2 separate regions of the Homo sapiens genome follow, and region 2 is linked to region 1. Evidence: fine-mapped expression QTL. A gene starts in region 1. The other region holds a variant in brackets. All regions are shown on one strand. Distances are between the middles of the regions.

Region 1 (2,915 bases):
GCTGGGATTACAGGCGTGAGCCACCGCACCCAGCCAACAACACCTATCTTAACAGGTACTGGTGAAGATGAAAATGTCAAGCACTTAGCACACATGGCCACTTACTAACCTCAGTAATAGTCCTCTTTCCAATCCCCCCTTATACTAAGGACAGGGGATACAGCGCTTGAATGCCTGTCAGGGAGACAGAATCCACCATATGAACCTTTTCTTTCTTCTGCTTACCAAACTCCTTTCTTTATATTTTGGGTATATGATGACTTACAGGATTTTTGGGTGAGCAACTGGGAATGCTTTATTTCTGATAGTAGCTCTAGGTCAATAATTTTGCCAACTCCTGCCCAAGATTAAATACTACCCCTTCAGAAGATCCTGGAAAAGTCTACCAGTGAAATGAACTGGAATTTTTTGGTTACTGTTCATATGTTTGTTGTGTTTTTCGATGCTCTTTAATGTGTCAGTTGACATTCTCCAAAGATCTAGCTGATGTAAGTGCGTCAAATAAGGCTGAATTACCAGGCAAGGTTTTCTCTGCGCCTCAAAGAAACTGTTAATTGACATGCCTCAGAGAGCGCTTCATGTCAGCCTACCACTCACAGTATAAGCTCGATGTATCTTAACAGGGAAGAGAAACACATCAAAGTGTGACTTACCCACTGTTGGGGACAACTTGATTCGAAAGAGCTTCTTAACTTCTTGCATTGAGAAGCATCCTCTAAGTTCTCATCTAAACACTTCCAGTACTCATCCCGGGCCCCCCAGCAGACCTGTCTTTCCTTCATAGATGGGGCTGCCATTCCTACTGCGATGAAGCTGTTGGCCAAAATAATATTTGAGATTAACAATGAACTTTGTAATCTGAAGAGAAGATAAGGAAAGAGGAAAACCGTCAATCTCCTCTTCCTTTAAAACTAAAAAAAAAAAAAAAAACAAAAACAAAACAAAACCATGCTTAGGGATTTTGATGAGGCAACTGAACCCAATCAGTTCTCAGTGGCAGCATAAGGCCACCCGCTCTTGAGGCTTATCTCACACTGTGTGATTTGATCCCTGCTGGGGCGGCAGCGTGGGCTCAGAAAGCCCGGCTGAGAACTGTGGTTCTGTCCCAGTCGCTTAGGGCAGCTCATTTATTCTCTCCGAGCCCGTTTCCCACCAGTAAAGCGGGGACAGCAGTGCCTAGTTTACAGGGTTACTGTTCGAACCTAAGCGCTGTAGAAACAGGTGTGTGGGGGCCACAATCACCAAGCAGGCGATTGGAGTGCCACCCCGTTTTGCACAAGAGGAACCCGCGGCTCGGGGACAGTAAGGGACCTCCCGGGCCCATAGTCCACGCGCGCCCCACCCGGACCCATCAGCAAGCCGACCTCTCTGCCCGCCCACGTCCGGCTTCCTTTCGATGTCGACGGGAGGAAACTGTCACGCAGGCCACCAACCGGCGGTGGAGGGCGCGGTGCCGAGTCCTGCCACTGCAGGGTCGCCCCGCTGGCTCAAGCTCTAGAAGCGTAGACCTCCCCAGCCGCAAAAAGCAACTCACGCGGCGAAACCGCGGACTCTTTTGACCCTTCCGAGCTACCATTTACTTTCCATAGAGGGGCGGGACTTCCTGTTTCGCTTTTATCTGTAAGACCGACTTCCGGCCTTCAAGGGCAAGAGGGGTATATACGTATATATCATCGCACGGTGTGTCCCGGAAGGCTTGATATGCTAGTCCCGCGGGACAAGGCGAGCCGAGGAGTTTGTGTGGAAGTTTGCATCTGAGAGTGCGAGAGCTGGACGGAGTGTTACAGAGCCGCGATGCCTTCTCGTTTTGTTTTGTTTTGTTTTTGATACAGTGTCTCGCTCTTCCGCCCAGTCTCGAGTGCAGTGGTGAGAACACGGCTTACTGCAGCCTCAAAATCCTGGACCCAAAAGATCCTCCCACCTCAGCCTGCCTCCCAGGTAGCTGGGACTACAGGCGCACAACACCATCGCTTCTTGGATTAAAAGAAAAGGATGAAACGGGCCCCAGAAAGAGGCGGTGACGTCCCAGAACCCATGGCAGGGGAGTTGGGAAAATAAATATTTGTATTGTTTTAATCTCCCTTGTGGCTTTTTTTAACCCCCGAAACAGCAAGGTATTTTTAAAAGGGATGAAGAGAGTTGCTTCAAATGTTTTGAGACGTTGTTATTTTTAATATGTGAGTGAATATCTTAGAAACAAAATGAACAAGAAATAAAAATTTTAGAAAATATATGAGTTAATCTCTCAGCAGAGTCTTTATTAAAAAGCATGTTTATGGTCAGTCATCTGGCACCCCGTTCTCTTAATAGATCCCATCTGCTCCATCATCTAGTTCTAAAACATTTATATAAGATGCAATTTACAATTTTGCACTCAGTGCAGTTTGATCCATTCCAAATTCAATATATGCAGACTTTTCCGGGTGGCGATGTGAGGCTACGTACCACCAAATATGTGTTCTGCAATATAGAAAGTATTTCCCCCATAGTTAATGCACTCTCATAGTGGAGTTACTTTAGCTTTACCAGAGCCACCCCCTTCTTTTACATCATGTCTATTGACGTCAGTTTACATATAGATATCTTTTAAATATGACTGATGGGATATAAAAGGAATGAAAGGAAAGAGTCTTAGATGACTTCTGAGTCTAAAAAGGAAATGTGTTTTAAATTTAAAATTTATAAGTACCTAATGAAAAATACATATGAAACAAAGTGAAGTGACAGAATTACAAAGAAAAAAAATGCCTGGTCATATTGGGTAATTTTAACAGGACTTTCTCACTAATCGTTAAGACTAGCAAGAGAAAAGTTAAGGATATAGGAAACGTGAATAACATGATGTAAAAATGACGCAATTAATATGTACAGAACAACACGACCAAAATCAGAATGTACAGTTTTTTGAAAGCAGA
Region 2 (2,915 bases), 50 kb before region 1:
GTACCATCTGTACTTCACTCTGTATTTTCCAGTGCCAGTCAAACCCGGTTGTGTTTTTTGTTTGTTTGTTTTTTCTTCTTCTGAGACAGAGTCTTGCTCTGTCGCCCAGGCTGGAGTGCGATGGCATGATCTGGGATCTCGGCTCACTGCAACCTCCGCCTCCCAGGTTTAAGTGATTCTCCTGCCTCAGCCACCCGAGTAGCTGGGATTACAGGCATCCACCACTATGCCCAGCGAATTTTTTTTTTTTTTGAGACGGAGTTTCGCTCTTGTTGTCCAGGCTGGAGTGCGAAGGTGCGATCTTGGCTCATTGCAACCTCTGCCTCCTGGATTCAAGTGATTCTCCTGCCTCAGCCTCCCGAGTAGCTGGGACTACAGACATGCGCCACCATGCCCGGCTAATTTTGTATTTTTAGTAGAGACGGGGTTTCTCCATGTTGGTCAGGCTGGTCTCGAACTCCCGACCTCAGGTAATCCACCCTCCTTGGCCTCCCAGAGTGCTGGGATTACAGGCATGAGCCACTGTGCCTGGCCTAATTTTTGTATTTTTAGCAGAGACAGGGTTTCACCATGTTGGTCAGAATGGTCTCGAACTCCTGGCCTCAAGTGATCCTCTTGCCTTGGCCTCCCAAAGTGCTGGGATTAGAGGTGTGAGCTACTGTGCTTGGCCCCAGTTATGTTTAGAGTACTATATTCATATATTGCTTTCTGTAAGAAATGGAATGAAAAAGTAAAAACTGAGAAAATGGCATCAAATGTTAGGAATTGATTGCTGTGATTTGAGAGCCCGTGAAAGATTACCCCAGGATTTGCTTCCATTGTAATATATTGTTATTTCTAGATCTGGGTGTGTGATGTTTGTCTAAGACTGATGAAAATTCGTTATTTATTCAGATAAAAACAATCCAGTTAGGTTGTTTTTGAGCCTGCTAAATCATTTCTAAATGAACACTCTAGTGTCTGAAGAACAGGTTTAATAAATCTGGAGACAAGTTAGATAGGAAGGGGTAGAGTTGAGCATGGTGCTCTGTTCCCCATGTAATGTTTAAATGACAGATACAGTTACCTGTCATTTAAAGCCGAGGTCAGCGGAGTGCCTGGTCTGCTTTCTGACCTTGGTGTGGATGTATGAATGACTACAGAACTCATGGAAGTCCCTCTGTTAAAACAGGAGTATTCATCATACTTTTATTTTCTGAAGGTAGCAGGTCAGCTTTATTATATAAAACCTTGGAAATATTTTTTATGCAACAATTCCCTCTCTGTAGTGTTGGAGTCAAGGAAGATGTCCCAGAGGAAATAGTATGTTATTGGTTTTCTAAAAGATGAGTAGAGTTTAAAGTGATAGGAGCTGGGTATGGGTATTCTATCAGAACAAAAATACATGTTATAATATATATTTAGCTATTTAGATAAGGGGTCAGGGCTAGACATGGTGGCTCACGCCTGTAATCCTAGCACTTTGGGAGGCCAAGGCAGGAGGATTGCTTGAGGTCAGTAGTTAGAAACCAGCCTGGGCAACACAGTGAGTGAGACTACGTCTCTAAAAAAAAAAAAAAAAAAAATTCAGAAAAAAGAGAGAGGGGTCAGGAGGGTCTAATCAGGTGACATTTGGGCTGAGCTCTGGATGAATTAAGGA[G/A]GACACCTGGAGAGGATGCTGTCTGGAGACCAAGCGAGGAAAGGTAGTGCTGCGTGGAGGACGAGGAGGTTGCAGGCCGGCTGTTGGATTCAGCTGTCTTGGTCACCTCGACAAAGGCGTTTCATGGTGGGATGAGAATCTAAGTAGAAACAGTTCAGAAGAAAATGGGAGTTTAGCGAGTGGAGACAGTGAGTATAGAGTCTCTTAGGAGTTTGCCCTAGAAAAGGGGGAATAACAGGGGTCGTTCCTGGAGGGGAACCTGGAGTTAAAGAAGGGGCTTTTTAAAGATGGGAGATAATTGGAGCATGTTTGTATGTTGAAGGAAGTGGTGCAGTAGAGAGGGAAAAGTGACAGGGAGAGGCCAGCAATAATCACATAGGCAAAATACTAGCCAGTTGTACCCACTGGGATGGCTATCAAGAAAACAAACTAAAAATAATGAGCATTGGTGAGGTTGTAGCAAAATTGGAGCCCTCCTGCATCACTAATGGGAATACAGAACAGTGCAGCTGCTTTGGAAAACGGACTAGAAAAAGCAAAATGCTTGTCTAGAGCAGTAATTCTTAAAGTGTGGTCTCTGGATCAGCAGCGTCAGCATCCCTGGGAACTTGTTAGAAATGCATATTCCTAGGCCCTGCCCCCAGTCTACAGAATCAGAAGCTCTGGGGGTGGTGCCCAGCACTCTGTTTTAATGAGCCCTTGTGATTCTGGAGCTGATACAGTTTAAGAACTATTGGTCTAGCAATAATGAAGGCCCAGATACAGCTGGAATACATATTTTTAAATGTTTAATTTTTGTGGGTCTATAGTAGGTGTATATATTTATGGGGTGTATGAGATATTTTGATATAGGCATACAATGTGTAATAATTACATCAGGTAAATGAGATATCTGTCACCTCAAGCATTTATGCTTTATGTTACAAACAATCCAGTTATACTGTTAGTTATTTTAAAATGTACAATAACTTACTGTAGACTGTAGCCACCTTGTTATACTATGAAATACTAGATCTTATTCATTCTAAGTATATTTTTATACTCATTAGCCATCCCCACACCCTCCCCCTACCACCACTACCCCTCCCAGCCTCTGTGGCAACCATCATTCTATTTTCTATCTCCATGAGTTCAATTGTTTTATTTTTTAGCTCCCACAAATAAGTGAAAACATGAGAAGTTTGTCTTTTTGTGCCTGGCTTATTTCACTGAACATAATGACCTCCAGTTCCATCCATGTTGTTGCAGATGACAGGATCTCATTCTTTTTTATGGC

Evidence for each region. PIP is the estimated chance that this variant, and not a neighbour inherited with it, causes the effect. A credible set is the group of variants that fine-mapping cannot tell apart.
Region 2: its variant is the best candidate, but not a certain one, in a credible set for the expression of COA6-AS1 in cerebellar hemisphere (GTEx, PIP 0.60).

The regions. Positions count from the first base shown.
Region 1 is chr1:234,372,128-234,375,042 of GRCh38, reverse strand. COA6-AS1 (COA6 antisense RNA 1) reads left to right here and starts at 1,450. Exons shown (of 2, transcript NR_125961.1): 1 at 1,450-1,620; 2 at 1,833-2,236. COA6 (cytochrome c oxidase assembly factor 6) reads right to left here and starts at 1,587. Exons shown (of 3, transcript NM_001206641.3): 1 at 1,365-1,587; 2 at 654-813. The coding sequence starts at 1,576. RefSeq lists enhancers at 1,204-1,753, 1,575-2,399.
Region 2 is chr1:234,422,399-234,425,313 of GRCh38, reverse strand. The region is part of intron 20 of TARBP1 (tRNA guanosine 2 -O-methyltransferase TARBP1); the gene reads left to right. Among named protein-coding and RNA genes, the nearest start is that of COA6-AS1, 50 kb to the right of the region's middle. The variant G/A (reference allele first, on the strand shown) is at 1,640.